2 separate regions of the Homo sapiens genome follow, and region 1 is linked to region 2. The links come from fine-mapping of genetic effects on gene expression. Tissue or cell type: sun-exposed skin. Region 2 holds a variant in brackets; the other region holds the start of a gene. All regions are shown on one strand. Distances are between the middles of the regions.

What was found. PIP is the estimated chance that this variant, and not a neighbour inherited with it, causes the effect.
Region 1: it holds the start of KLRF2, and the variant in region 2 is fine-mapped to the expression of KLRF2 in sun-exposed skin (GTEx, PIP 0.98).

Annotation. Positions count from the first base shown.
Region 1 is chr12:9,876,631-9,884,741 of GRCh38, forward strand. It overlaps KLRF2 (killer cell lectin like receptor F2), which reads left to right and starts at 4,859. Exons shown (of 6, transcript NM_001190765.1): 1 at 4,859-5,035. The coding sequence starts at 4,966. It also overlaps a transcript of CLEC2A not described here.
Region 2 is chr12:9,930,555-9,938,665 of GRCh38, forward strand. It overlaps CLEC2A (C-type lectin domain family 2 member A), which reads right to left and starts at 1,816. Exons shown (of 5, transcript NM_001130711.2): 1 at 1,721-1,816. The coding sequence starts at 1,775. It overlaps LINC02470 (long intergenic non-protein coding RNA 2470), which reads right to left. Exons shown (of 5, transcript NR_104634.2): 5 at 6,025-6,260. The variant T/C (reference allele first, on the strand shown) is at 4,931.

The DNA of each region.
Region 1 (8,111 bases), 54 kb before region 2:
CTCCCATCGTGGCCCAGAGAGTAAACATGGACTCCTCCGCAAATCTGGCTGCAGCAGAAGCATCTCTACCACTGGAGCCATGTAACTTACCGCACTGTGTAATACCAGAGGTATCAACGGTGAGAAAAAATTTTGTGGAATTTATGGCCAAGTCCTAACGGGTGAAACATAATTTCTACTGATCCTTTGAGTCCTAGAGCAATACCAGGTCAATTATAGCTAAGCATTTATAGAGCTTTTGTGAAATAGCTCCTGGCATGCTACTGGACCTTGCAGAAATAGATTACTTGGATGTGAGTCAGCAGGCATCCGTATGTTCTGAACTGCCATTAATAAAATGAAACCCACCCAGGCGCAGTGGCTCATGCCTGTAATTCCAGCACTTTGGGAGGCCAAGGCGCGTGGATCACTTGAGGTCAGGAGTTCAAGGCCAGCCTGGCCAACATGGTGAAACCCCGTCTCTACTAAAAATACAAAAAATAGCCTGGCGTGGTAGTGGGTGCATGTAATCCCAGCTACTCAGGAAGCTAAGGCAGGAGAATCACTTGAACCTGGGAGGCAGAGGTTGAGTGAGCCAGGATTCCACCATGGCACTCCAGCCTGGGTGACAGAGCGAGACTCCCTCTCAAGAAAAAAAGGAAAGAGAAACCTGTAAGACTCACCAAATATAAGTTCAGGCACTCCCAGCAGCAATTCATTATATGATGAGATTGGTATATCCAGAATCAGCACAGGCAGATTCTCAGTGAAAAGGCAAGCTGAAGACCCCTATGCCAACCAGAGAGCACAGGCAAGCTTCAGAAATGATACTAATGATACTATCCAACTGTTTCACTGGCACCTCTCCCTCGGCTCATGTCTATGGCTGTTTAAGATATTTCCTATTACCTGCTGATAAACAAGGAATAAAGTTTAGTTGGTTCTCAGAAAGGTCTGTTTTGGATGTAGATGAAAGCTCTAATTGGACGATGGTTACACGACAGCACCACTAACTGAGCTTCATAAGACAATAAAAATAACTCACATTTAAAACATATATGAACTCCTGGGCAATGGGTAACATGTGTCTCTGTCTCTGCCACTGGAGTGAAAGCTCCACGAAGTCATGAAATCAGAGGGGTTTATCTGTTTTACTTGTTGATGTATTCTCAGTGGTTAGAACTGTGGCTGTAGCATAACATATATTCAAAAAGTCTTATTGAATGAATCAATATACGAATGAATATATACAGAGGAATAGTCATAAATACATTAGTAACAGAAAATGAACAAGGCACAAATAGTTAACCCATAACAATGCATATACAGTCAGTGTATCCAAAGTTGTCTAAACACAATGAAAATCCAAGAAATCTAAAGTGAAACAATGCAGCAGCCTATCAGATTAAAAATGTGTCTATAATCACTTGAGCTCAGGAGTTTGAGGGTACAGTGAGTTATGATGACACCTCTACATCCAGCCTGGGTAACAGAACAAGACCCTGTCTGAAAAAAAAAATGCCCATTTAAGATTAAAATGATAATCTGGTATGGGTGTGGGAAATTCTAAATTTCAGAAGCGTAGAAGTTGTAACGTTTCTGGAGAGAATGGAGACTTCCTTTTATTAACTAATTCATACATGAGGATATGAATTTTGTAAAAGATGCACATTTTCTATGTCTATTTTGGATTTGTGGGGCATCAGATTTATTGAGTATCTCAACCCTTAAAGATACTCTTTTGTTTTATATGGGCCAAGGGGAGAGGGCAAAAGGAGACTAAATGCCATGAAGGAATAATGTCAGCCCACACGGAGTTTGAGCCAAGATGATGGCTTTTAAAATGGGAAGTAATGAATTTACTAGGGAAATACGCAGGGGGTTAAACTGACAGAACTTAATTACTAACTATATAGAGAACACTGAATAAATCTATAGTTTGGGAAAAACATTAAGATACAAATTTTAGACATCTTCAAGTTTTGATACTCTAAAATATTTCAGCATTCAATCCCACCAAATCTGTTAGACCCATACTGAGAGAATTGGCCCAGGCATAGAAGGTAAAGGGAAGAGAAGTTTCTGAAGGTACTTGATGGCCCTTGGGTAGAACTGAGGGGTCTGGCGCCCAGGATGGAGGGTGGGGGAACAGTTTTAAAGTTGCTACCTTTTATACAGTGAGGAGGCTAGGCAGTCATTGACCACCTTCTCTCTCCTTTCTACAGCCTCCTCCAGGCTTTGATTTCCTCTCTTCAAGGTCAGTTTTGTGAACCGATTTTTTAGGAGGATGGGGGGATGGAGAATGCTTTTGTGAGGGAACCTGGTGACGACCTGCTGTGGCAACTGTTCACTGTTGACTATAGATGTATTGGGAGATGCTACAGCGGAATCAGGCTTTCTGATATCAACGGCAATAATTTGATTCTAGAGGTCAAGGGGTTGCAGTTGCCACAATAAGCCAGAGGGAATGATTAGTAATCAGAGTTTTCATCCACAGAAATCTGTGACAATGATTAGCTGATTTTAAGTTTTGGGAAATGAAAAAAAAAGAAAAGAAAAGAAAAACAAACAAAAAAGGATATTTCACTAAGGAGCTGCTTGATATGCTAAGGAAAATTACATGTATGTTGCCCAGAAACTTAGCCCGTATTTTCAGAGAGGAGATTCATTGTGTCTTACCCAATCCCCAGACTTCCATATAGTTAGTAGGCAAAGCTCTTCGCAGACCAGGAACCACTCAACTGGGGAGGAGGTAGGTTTGGTCTCTTGGTGAAGGACATTGTAACATGGCCACAGGTGTAATTATGATATTTATTCCCCAACACCTAAACCGGAGGAAACTTCAGTCATTTTCTTGAATGACTATACACTGGGAAAAAGCTGAGAACCTGTGATGGTTTCCGGCTTGTATTTACAAACAGAAATAACAAGTATTTCTTTGCTGCCTTGCCCAGGTGTATGTCAGCTCTCCTGATCTCTGTTATAAGATGGCCCAGAGGGAACTAAATCATCTTGATATAGCTCCCAATATGTTATACCTCAGAACTGGTTGCACACAATAGATTCATTACATTGATGCTATCATGCCAACTGTTCCTGGTGAAAAGTAGGCAGTAAACCTACTACATATTTTTATAAGACATATGTTCACCACCATTAACTTGATCCAACTTGACCACTTTGACCCAATGAACCCTATGTTTAGAAGTGCACAGAAGCATTTTATCACAAACATAATTGTGCCATTTTGGAGGCAAGGCCTGAACAGTTCCAAAGAAGCACAGTAAACTGCATGAGCAGATGGCTCAGACTCCGATGGCACATGTTCGCATTCCTTTGCTATCTCCACCTCAACCATACCTATGACCCGGGTTGGGGATGGAAAAGAGGGTTCTGTACGATCTTACACTGAAGTAGTTGAAAAAAATAAGTTTATCAGTGGTTATGTAAAATACGGCAGCTGGAATAGATGCCACACTACAGTCCCATTCAGGAGAAGACTGTGAAAGACAGAAGTGAAGGTAAGTCTTCCCACTGAACAGAAGTTTGGACAATATGTCTGGTTGTGAACCTAACAGGAAGGATAAGCACTCAGAGAAATACATCTAAATCATCTTATCAGAAACTAATAGGTGAGATGACTTGTCGGAAACTCAAAAAGAACAAAATAGAAAAATGAATGAGAAGCTAAGAGGTACATATAGAGATCATGCAGAATGGACGCGGCGTGTGTAAATATTCATTCCCATGTAAATACTCACAAGTGACATCCAGTGTTGAGGAGGAGACTCAATAATCAGGTGAACACAACATGTGCTGTGGGAAACAGTCAGCCACCTTCCCCAGACACTCGGTGTTAAATCAATGGATTGATATTGAGTGGCCACGTAGCAGAAACAGAACCATTAGCATGTGTGTGTGTGTGTGTGTGTGTGTGCGTGTTAAGTGAAATATATATAAAATAAGGAATGTGATTATGGAGGCTGGTAAGTCAAAATTCTGCAAATGAGCATGGACAGACTGGGTACCTAGGAAGGCTCAATTCAAATGCAAAGTCCACCGTCTGTAGAATCAGGAGGAGCTAATGCTGCAGATAGTCTGAAGGCCATTGCTGGAGAATTCTCTCTCACTCAGGGAAGACAAGTCTTTTTGTTCTATTCAAGGCTCCAACTGACTCAATAAGGCCCAGTCACATTACAGAGGAGGCAAATCTGCCTTACTCAAAGGTCACCTATTTAAATATGAATCCCATCCAAAAACACCCTCACAGAAATAAGCAGAATGATGTCTGATCAACTATCTGGACTCTCTGTGACTCAGCCAAGTTGACACAAAATAAACTGCCACACCTACTGAAGGAAAATCTGCCTGGCGTTTTCTGAAAAACAAACAAACAAACAAAAAAGTTTAAAAAGTTAAATTCTTTGCAAGTGATTCCGATTTTCACTAACTTGAGACTTGCTGATCTTTTATTTTCCTATTTTTGTCCCATCTAACCATCGTTATTTGGACTCTACTAGTCAAATATGTCCCAAATAACAAAATTGCTATTTTAACTTTTTTAATTTGAATTTTTATTTACCTAGACATTTGTTCTGTTTGTTTAGAGATTATTTGTTTTATTTTATTTTTTCTCTTACTTTATTATAAAAGACATGAAGGAAGGAATTATGTTTCTAATACACCGCACACAAGTGGCAGGAACACACAAGTCCATTTGTTGAAAACAGTGGAACACACTAGCTACCTTTACCTTGAAATTCACAGAATTGTAGCCAGATATTAACAAGCTTATATCCATTTTCATTTACCAACACATCCTGTGTGGTTTTAGACATCTGTGTCTGAGTAAATTTTGACTATTTTTGGCCTTCCTTTTAGTTTTCTTTTAGTACCTTGTGCCAAAGAGACATATCCAAGGTTGAGATTAGTTTCCATTTTCTTTGTACTATTTTCTGGATAATAAGACATTAGACATTTGAAGAGATGGAGAATGAAGATGGGTATATGACGCTGAGTTTCAAGAATCGTTGTAAATCGAAGCAGAAATCTAAAGGTAGGAATACTGCTCCCCATCACCGCATTTAAAATTTCATTATTCTTCTAGGAAGAGAATTATCTTAGAATATTTTTAACATCTTAACATTGATCATAATAAGGAATATAAAAATGGTCATAAATTGTCTGTTAGATTATTTAGATTCATGAAAGCATCAACAATAAAAAGTCTGCATTTTCAGAGCCATGAGGTAAGAGAAATGCGAATATGACGATGTGTAATCCTGTGTGTTGTAGCATAAGAACATCACTTTCGAAGAAAAGGCTGAAAAATTGTGTTTTTACAGAAACTTCCTCCTACAAAACTTAAAGTTTATATAAACTTAAAGCGTATATATATGCTTATATATATATTTATGCTTATACATATATAATATTTTTAATCTTCGTAAAAGCCCTATAGGATTGGTAGAACAATCTACTGGGAATGCGAGAAGAGAGAAAAAAAAACAAAAAAACATTAATCTTTGCTCCTTAGGGCTGCTCTGTGGTTGGCTTTGTTTGCTTTTTCAGGAATTTTGAAAACAATCTTGTTGAAATAGCCAAGACCTAAGTTAAGATGACATAGGCCAGAAATTCAGAATTACCAGTCGCAGTGGCAGTTCTGCCATATGTATTGAACATTCTCGTGTACAATCTCATTTTATATCTAGCAAATGCAAACTTCCCCTGCACCCCCTGCCCCCACAAAATGACACTTTTGTTATTATCTGAAGACTCAGATCTTTTTTGTGTTTCAATATCATGAAACAAATGTTTACTTTTTCAATAGTAACTTACTTCCATGCAGCAAAAACTAGTACCATTGGTGTTAAATTGACTGAGGCAGACCAGGCACGGTGGCTCATGCCTGTAATCCCAGCACTTTGGGATGCAGAGGTGGGCGGGTCACCTGAGGTCAGGAATTCGAGACCAGCCTGGCCAACATGGTGAAACCCCGTCTCTACTAAAAATACAAAAAAAATTAGCTGGGTATGGTGGCGTGTGCCTGTAATCCCAACTACTTGGGAGGCTGAGGCAGGAGAATCGCTTGAACCCGGGAGACGGAGGTTGCAGTCAGCTGAGATCATGCCACTGCACTCCAGCCTGAGTGACAGAGCAAGACTCCATATATAAAAAAACAAAAAAAATTATTCAGACCCTAAAGCCCACAGACTAAATGTATGGCTCTGGGCAGAAGCTTTTAGCCTTCTTAAATCTCAATACTTTGATATATAATAAGAAAAATCTACCTGATGATGCTTTTATGTGGATGTTAAACTAAATTTACTATTTTTTAATCTATAAACTACTTTTTAATATACAAATGTGTACAGAGACTTAAAATCTGAGTATTGATACATAAAATATAAGATAATATCCATTTAAATTATGAATGAAGGAAGGATAGGGCTGGGAAAATAAATTGGGCCAGAAAAATTACTGTAGGCATGTTTGTGCTTGCTATACATTTGCTTCCAAGCTTCCTTGTTATTACTGACCTAAGGGAATTCTTACCAGTTGTTCAGTTCACATTGTGTATAAGATAAAGTTACACCTATTCCTTAAGATTGATATAATTAATCTTGATCCTAAATCAGAAAAAATATTTTCCTGAGTTCTCATGAAGCACATAAAATAATACAATTAGTGTTCTTGCAATAGTAGCACCAGCAGATTTTGTAAGACAATTTCTTCATATAGCCCTGTGTAAGCCAATGGCATCTAGCCAAGCAGTGCTAGGATAGGCCAGCATACTGCACTTCATGTACTCAGCTCTCTGTTCACCTGGCTTGATATAGTATGTAAATCATGGCTTACATGAAAATATTAATTTTTGGTCTATTGTTCAGTTTTTTATAAATCTTATTTGGCAAGAAGTTTAAAGTCTCCCTCCCTGGCATGTATGGAAAGAGCACTTGTTAACTACAGATCCATATACCCTTGATTGATATTTTCTCATAAAATTGCAGAAATGTATTTTGACGATTTTCAATTAAGTAGAAGTCTTTCCATATTTGCTTGAACAGCAGAAATATCTACAGGGAAGAAAAAGAAAGAAAATTATTTTGGACTTAGTAATACAGACAATTGAGTAGCAAATTTCAAAAGGTACACTACATACAGTAAATTCTCTAAGTATATACTATAGATCTAATCAAATGCAGTAAATCCATAAAACCTATTGAAGTAAAGCATCCACACAGAAATTAGATTTGAGAAACAGCACTTTTATTATGACTTAGAAGACAAATTATTTGTGAAATGTACAACCAAGGTGATGAAATTAAATGTTTGTTTATAGATAAAAGAATAAAAAATAGGGAATAATTATCAGAGTATCTCAAATTACTTTGCTTTCTCTTTGGCCACTAGCCTGGCAAACTGACTAAAATGATTGTAGATTGAGATATTAATTATATGATGTCTGCATATAAAAGGAACCTGTCATAGTTTTGTGAAAAAAGTGTATACATCCAATTTATTCAAAAGTGCTAATATGTGGAAAAAAGTAGATAAAATTGAAAGAGGATTATTATACATGCCCCTGTTTAACCTCTCTAGAGATTACTTGTTTATTCCTTTATAAGGAAGCTATTCTTGCCAACTCTAATGCGATGAAATACTATAGCATAGATGTCATATAAGCATCATTAATTGGAGATCTAATACTACCTAAGCTGAAACTGACTCCTGTCTAAAGAGTCAAACCCAGAAAAATATAATATATTACAGGTGTAAGGTGAAATAAAATGTGGATATTTCCAGTACAGTGACTGGTATATAATAGAATTTTAATAAATATTTCTTTCCCTCTTTTATTTCTTAGCAGTGAGTCACTAAATTGAATAACACACGTAATTGTGCCTGACATAGATATATACATTTTATATATTATTCTTTCTATATAATTTACATGTATAGAATAATATATATGTTTACATTGTATATATTTATATTTTATATAATATGTTATAACAAATATTTATATCATATATAATATGTATTTGTATGTATAATTTATATGGAATTTAAGACATCATTTTTAGGTCCTCAAAAACACCACCAAATAATTAACAAGTCTATGTCAGTAC
Region 2 (8,111 bases):
TCTCCTATTATCTCATTTTTTAATTTTGTATATTTTTCTTTCACTCTATTGTGCCAGATGCATGTTTTTTTCTTATCTATTTTGTTTGTACACTTTTGAAGTTTCAGTTTGAGGTATTTGGCTTTTATTAGTTTTAGAAGTTGGAATATTATTTCTTCAAATATTTCCTATCCGCTATTCTTTTTTTCTCTCTCTCTGTTTCAGATTCTTGTTATCTAGAAGGTGGCATTTCTACTTCTATTTTTCATATCTCTCAGCTTTTATTTTATATTTTCTAACTGTTTTCTTTTCTGTCATGTTTTTAATAGCATCTCCTAGGTCTTATTCATTCTTAATCAGCGTCCATTCTATTAATTAACTCCTCAAAGTGTTCTTTATTTCAAACACTATATTTCTATAATTATTATTTTCACTTGGTTTTTATTGTGTTCTTGGTGCTTCTTCATTTCATTAATATCTTTTCTTTTGGAGCATTTTTATTATGCTTTAATTAAATTCTCAGACTAGATGTTCTAATGATTCCTGCAGCCCGGCTTTCTCATAATCTTCCAGTACATGCTTCACAGTACTTCATATTTTGTCTTCTCGTTATGCAATGAGATAAATTTTCTTCCACTTTTTACTCTCTAAACTCTTAAATCTGTTACCCAGACAAGCCTGACTAATTTATTTGGCTAAAGGGATGGAATCTTATTTCTTTTTGTAATACTAATGTCCAATTGTGTAAAATGTAGACTAATTTTTAAAAATTTTCTTATGAAGTTTTCATAGATCAAGAGTTCGTAACTATGACCAATAGTTAGAATATACAACGAAGTAAATTTAACCTTACCCTAAAGAAACTTCTAAATAGAACATCCTTAAATTAAAATGGAAAGTCTTCTAAGACAGAGAGATATTATCACTGAAAACATTCTAGTATAGGCTGCTAGAAATGCTGTAGCTAGAAATCGTATGGTAGATGAAAAGTTTTACTAGGTAGCTACTGAGGTCTCTTCAACCTTTAAGAGTATCAGGCTTACTTATTATTAAAAGAATTATCCCAATTGCCCTGGGAATTCATATCAGTAAACTCTGATAGTGGTTTCAGCTGGAGTCCTTAACTCATTTCAAGATTTTACTTTTTATCTCTTCACTGTCTTTATCTTAAAGTTTTGGCAGGCTTCCTATTCCAGTCATTTGGCATACAATTCATTCGTTTTCTTTAACATAAACCCTCAGAACTATTGTGAATGGAGGGTGTTTGTATGTGTACCTTGTTTTTATTTATTGGTTTGTTTATGTTTCAATCCACTGAAAACAAACTTCATTGTTGGCCTTAGCTGAATCTTAAAATTTTTGAAAAGTTCTTTTCAGTCTTATGAAGTCACAATCATCAAGCCTCCTTCCAGAGTGAAGCATTTGCTTTTTATTCTGTATAAAAGTGTTAAGCAATTTTTTCCCTGTGAAAGTACATTTTAAAAATATTCTTATTGAGATATAATACACGTACCATAAAATTCTGCCCCAAAACCTTCTTACACACAAGCTTATACCCTCTCTTGCAGACATAAAACTCTACATGCTCTAACAGGCTTCCACAATTCTCCGGAAGTGCTTCCCCATCCCTCACTTACTTTAGTAGACTTTCACAGTAAGTAAAGAGTCCATATTTTTAAGCTGTCCTGTATTTTGTTTTATCTTTCCTTTACTTCCTTCTCATTCACTCTATAAAACTTACCTATCCGATGTATGAAGCCATCAGCTCTGCCATCCCGCAGCTCTGGATTAATCATGGCAAGGCGCTAACCGATGGAGATCAGTAGGAGAGGACTAGAAAGCTTTTCATGTACATCACTTATTTAGGCACTGAGCAAGCTTCAGTCAAAAGAGACTTAACCAATCCAAATGGAAAACATCAGTACTAATTTTAGATCAAAGATAAAAGTAGGCAGACTTGTTAGTTTAAGGAAGGAATTTAAAAATTAACTCATCCATAACAAAAGGATCGTAAAGTCAATCATGTAAACACCACAACAACCGTGCTATGGAACATTTCCATCATCTTTCTTTTTTTCCTTGTGTAATCACTATCTTTTCTGACCCTGGACCCTGGCAAGCATTACTTTGCTTTATATCAACATAGTTTTTCCTTTCATGGAATTTTTTTTTTTTGAGGCAGGGTCTCACTGTGTTGCCCAGGCTGGAGTGCAGTGGGGAAAACTTGGCCCATTGCAACTTTGACCTCCTTGGCTCAAGCAATCCTCCTGCCCTACCCACCCAAGTAGCTGGGACTACAGTCGCGCACCATCATGCCCTGCTAATTTTATTTTTTGTAGAGACTAGGTCTCATTATATTGCCCAGACTGGTCTTGAACTCCTGGGCTTAAGTGATCTTCTGGCTTCAGTCACCCAAAGTACTGGGATTACAGGCATGAGCCACCACGGCCAGCCCCTTTCATAGAATTTTATATAAATGGTATCATATAATATGTAGTGTCTTGTCTCTTGCTTATTTCATTTATAATACTTTTGAGATTCACTCAAGTTGTTGTGCAGGTAAGTAGTTCATTCCCTTTTATTTCTTAGTAGTATTCCTATTGCATGTTATACCAGAAATTATCTCTTTGATCACTAGTTGATGGACTTTTGTTTCTAGGGTGGGACTGTTATGTATGAAACTGCTGTACACAGGCATTTTTGTGTGAGCAAGTTTTCTCTTGGATAAATTCCCAGAAATTGAATTGCTGCATCATATAAGTATGTTTATCTTTATAAAAAGCTGTAAAACTGGCTGGGCGCGGTGTCTGTCACCTGTAATCCCAGCACTTGGGGAGGCCGAGGCGGGTGGATCATGAGGTCAGGAGATCGAGACTATCCTGGCTAACACAATGAAACCCCGTCTCTACTAAAAATACAAAAAATTAGCCGGGCCTGGTGGCGGGTACCTGTAGTCCCAGCTACTCGAGAGGCTGAGGCAGGAGAATGGTGTGAACCCGGGAGGCGGAGCTTGCAGTGAGCCGAGATCGTGCCACTGCACTCCAGCCTGGGCAACTGAGCAAGACTCCGTCTCAAAAAAAAAAAAAAAAAATTTGCTTCAGCCTGGAATCTTTGCTTTTGGTGCTTCGGTGCAGAGACAGAAAACGGGCACTCAGAGTCACACTGGTAGTTGCACACTGTATCTGCAGAGGGCGTGTCTCATCTGTACCCCGCTGGGTTACGGGATTTCAGGAGGTATTTTTGTCCACCTGCGAATTCCATTTATTACCTTTCATTTAACAGACAATGTCTTTCCTTTCTGCAGTTGATTTTGCTAAAGAGGCAATTCATAAGGTGAGGTCCTACTCATAGTATGACTTGCTTTCTCACGACCTCCTTCCATTTTTAGTAACTCCCTGGTCTATTTGGTGTCTGTAAAAAAAGAATCTGGTAATGGAGACTTCTTTTAATATGGAAATTTGGCCTGGCAATAACTTATTCCTTTCCACATGTAACTGACCCAATCTGGTTTCCAGATGACAAGTATGCAAGCCCCAGATGTTGAGAAGCCATATTTCAACTGCTTCCTGCATCTGTTGAAATATAATTGTTCATACTTGCCATCCCTTATGTTTCTTGTAACAATTTGCACAGTTCTTGCCAGAATAAATGCCATTCTCTGTATGCTTCAGAGAATTCCGCAATTTGATCAGTGTGTGTGTGTGTGTGTGTGTGTGTGACCTTCCGTAAAACACTTCTAAAGGGTGAAAGCTCTTGTATGGCATAGACATGAATTCCTTCCTCTGGTAATAATTAGGTTATTTCCAGAAGCACAGTGTCATTTTTTTTTTTTTTTTGAGATGGAGTTTCTCTCCTGTGGCCCAGGCTGGAATGCAATGGTGTGATCTCGGCTCACGCAACTTCCACCTCCTGGGTTCAAGTGATTCTCCTGCCTCAGCCTCCTGAGTAGCTGGGATTATGGGCATGCACCACCATGCCTGCCTAATTTTGTATTTTTAGTAGAGACGAGGCTTCTCCATGTTGGTCCAGCTGGTCTCGAACTCCTGACCTCAGGTTATCCACCCGCCTCGGCCTCCCAAAGTGCTGGGATTACAGGTGTGAGCCACCATGCCCAGCCCATTCTTTAAATAAAAGCTTTCCTGTTTAAGGCTTTTCAAAGGAGCAGACCACTTTGAAGATTCTCCCTAGGGTTGATATGTGTCTAATTCATTTTATAAAATTATTCTTATCTTCATTTTAAAGCTTTGGCTATACAGTCAGAAATGTCCTGGATAACAAACTATTTTGTATTTAATTTAATTTGCCTCTTCATTGTCTTATTCAACAAACATTTACAGAATGCCTAATTAGTACTTGGCATTTTTCAGGGTGCTTGAAATACGTCTGTGAACAAAATAGACACAGATTCCTTTACTCATGGGGTTTCCATTCCAGGAAGTTTAAACATAAAGACTAAAGATAGTAAACAAATGGTACAATATTCCATATTCCAGTATGTAATAAGTTCCACTGAAAACAAAAGATAGACCAGGTTAAAATTGATTAGTAATGTCAAGGTTGAGGAGTGTGAGCTGCAATTTTAATAGGGTAGTCAGGGTAAGCATCACTGAGAAAGTGAAATGTAAATGAACTTTGAGGAGGGAAAGTGCCATGTGGATACCATCATCCTGGTGGAATTGTGTGAAGATCCTAGGGCAGATGTATGCCTGGCACATTCCGGAAAGAGTGAGGAAGCCAGCTGTGTCTGGAGGAGAACAGTGAGAGAAGAGTTCAGCTAAGTACCAACAGGGTAATTCTGTTTTTGCCATTCTGAGGCCTGTGGCTAATATTCTAAGTGAAATGGGAAGATGGAAAATTCTTTTGAGCAGAATAGCGGTGTGATCTGACATACATTTAATATGTTCACTCTGGGTACTGTCCTCAGAATAAGTTGGAAGGGGATGCAATCCAC[T/C]CACCTAGCCTGAATAACTATACTTAAAAATGTTCAAAGTTCTGCTCATGTTCATAAAATTCAACCCGCAGCCCATTATTTGTTCCTTTCTCTTTTCTTCTTTACCTGTCAAATTTTCTCCACTGGGCGCTCTGACTCCTTTTAACATTATTTCTATTTCAGTACAGCTGGATAGAAATGTCATCATTAGGAGATGCAAAGCGGTCCCCTTCTAATGTGATAGTCACCACTCCAGAGATGGCTAATGGAGATGTTTAATGACCTTAAAAATGCATAAGTCTCATTCCCCATCCTCCTTTTGCTAACGATGGTCATTTTTTGTAGCACAATAATCTGAAAATTTTAGAATTATTTTTGTTCTTGTACAGTACAGCATGTAAATTATAATTTAACAACACCTGCATTTAACCTGCTAACACGGTTTACACACTATTAAATCCCGGCCCCATAGAGAATGAGAAGATGAGATGCTGATAAAATTTGCTTCTGATGATGCTGAACATACCATCTATTTTTTCTCTTCTTTTTTTTTTGAGACGGGGTCTCGCTCTGTCACCCAGGCTGGAGTGCAGTGGCGCGATCTCTGCTCACTGCAAGCTCCGCCTCCCGGGTTCACACCATTCTCCTGCCTCAGGCTCCCGAGTAGCTGGGACTACAGGCGCCCGCCACCCCGCCCGGCTAATTTTTTCTATTTTTTAGTAGAGGGTAAGGGGTTTCACCATCTTACCCAGGATGGTCTCCATCTCCTGACCTCGTGATCCGCCCACCTCAGCCTCCCAAAGTGCAGGGATTACAGGCATGAGCCACCGCACCCGGCCAACCATCTATTTTTTCAATATTATTTTCCACATTGTTTGAATGTCTGTAATGTGTGTGAGACCCAGCTGAATTTAAAATGTGGTTCTACCATTTACTATAATCCCAGGTAAACAATCTTTCATTTGCTCATTTATTTCAGCAAAAAATGATAAAAATTCTTCATCATTTAGGGGTAAAAATATTTAGCATAGTTCATGGTACAAGTTAATACTCAAAAGAGAATTACTCATTATATCAGGAAATGTAAAAGCGAAGAAAAGAAAACTAGGCCAAAGTAAAATATTAAGAGGTGCAGAGACTTTAATATCAGCCAGATGTTAACCCTTGCCCTCTGTCCTTCTGAGACCCGTGTAAGTATTAGCTGGAATCTAAACCCCATAGGTTTGTGGGAATCCGGAGAACTCTCCATGATTTCTTCAAGTCACCAGGGCTTCCTTCTTCGTGGTCCTCTCCACTTCTAAATACTCACGTTTTGCTCCCATGACTCATAGCACAAAACTCGATTCTTTCACTAGTTTCAGCAACGACAGCAACAACAAATCCACTTAATGTAAATAATTCGCTAGTTTCATAACTTGACTAAAGACAAAACAAATAGATTAATTCTTTATTTACTGGACCTCCTGAGAAATAACTGAGCACAGCCTCGAAAATAGAACGTAAATTTCATTAGCCCGGTTTCTAAAACACGTGCAGTGTGGAAGGAGTAGAGGAAGTGAAACAAGCTGTTGCTCTCCTCCTATCTTTCTCCAAATTTTACCTCAGGACCCTGATGGCAGGAAGAAAAGGACACTATGTGACTTCAGTGCCTAACAACACAGTCCTGGAAGTTTACGCTGTTGATACTATAGCAAACATTGTAATCATTTTGTGAGGGATTGGATTCTTCCCTTTATACTGTAGCATAAACATTGATATATCAATGTGTTTAGCCATTTAGAAATTATAAAGAAGGGGAGTGTAACTGACATTTCATTGAACATACCTTTCATATATTACAAAATTGGTCTATTAATGCTGAAATAAATGTTCACATTTGGCCACTCTTTATCACCATCACTGTAGTGAAACAGGTATTCTTTACTCAATAGATTACGATACACATAAGTAAACAAATAAAATCTAAAGAAAAGATTTCCTACATTTATATTTTATGCCATACATATAAACATGTGAAATTCAAAATTCAAAACGGAGGAAAACAGGATGGTTAATCATGATACATTTCTGGTTATACTGTAATTATTTGGGGGAACTTCACAGTACTGGTGTACACTTTCCTAACTTCTAGGGTAACTTCAAATTTTTATCCTGCCCATTCCCAAAATATATGTGTATTTTTATGCTTATCCAATCCATAGTGCCAACTAATAACAACCGTTATGGGCTGAATTATAGGCCCCCAAATTTCATACATTAAGTGCCTAACTCCCAGTACCTGAGAATGTAACAGATTTGGAGATAAGGTATTTGTTTTTTTTAAAAAAGAAGTGATTGAGGTAAGAAAAGGTCTTTAGGGTGCACCTTAATCCAATATGACTGATGTCCCTATAAGAAGAAATAAGTTAGACACAGACTTGAGTGTGTACAGAAGGCCACATGAACACAGAGTGAGAAGACAGCCATCTGCAAGCCAAAGAGAAGGGCCTTAAAAGAAACCAACCCTACTAACACCTTGATCCTGGACTTAACGGCCCCCAGAGCTGTCTTTGAGCCACCCATTCAGTGGCATTTATTACAGCAGACTTAGCAAATTAATACACCAATGTTAACTCCTGTCTCATTTTTTGATGGGCCTGTATATAATATGTAATGCCACATTAAGCTGTTAATATTTTCTTTCAAGAAAATATAATATTATGTTTTATAGTCAGAAAGTTTAATCTGTCTTTTTTTTTTACATTTTTCAAAGATAAAATATAATATTGGGTATATTATCCCTCTCAAATCATTGTGCATTTTCACCCCAAATTGAATGTAAATACAATAATCATAAGAGAATTTTCTCAACTTTAGAAAGTTCCGCTACTAACTTTATTATATTATATACAACATGTAATATCTGGCATGGAGTGCTACAGAACCAGTATCTATTACAAAGTGGGCAGTCAATAAATGGTAGCTAGTGGTCACCTTTAGTTCACCAAAGAATACTGAGAACTCAATATCCTTTATATGACCTTCTCCACCCTGACGTTGGAGAAATTTGTAAGTGTTTTAAGAACAAAATAGATTCTAAGTGTATGATGAGTTTTTTCAAGCTATGGAATATAAAGAAGTTCTTGAATTTTAAACAAAGGTAAACTGAGGCAAACACGTTCTCTTCTTAACTTACTCTTGTGCATGTCAGGCCACTGGTGGG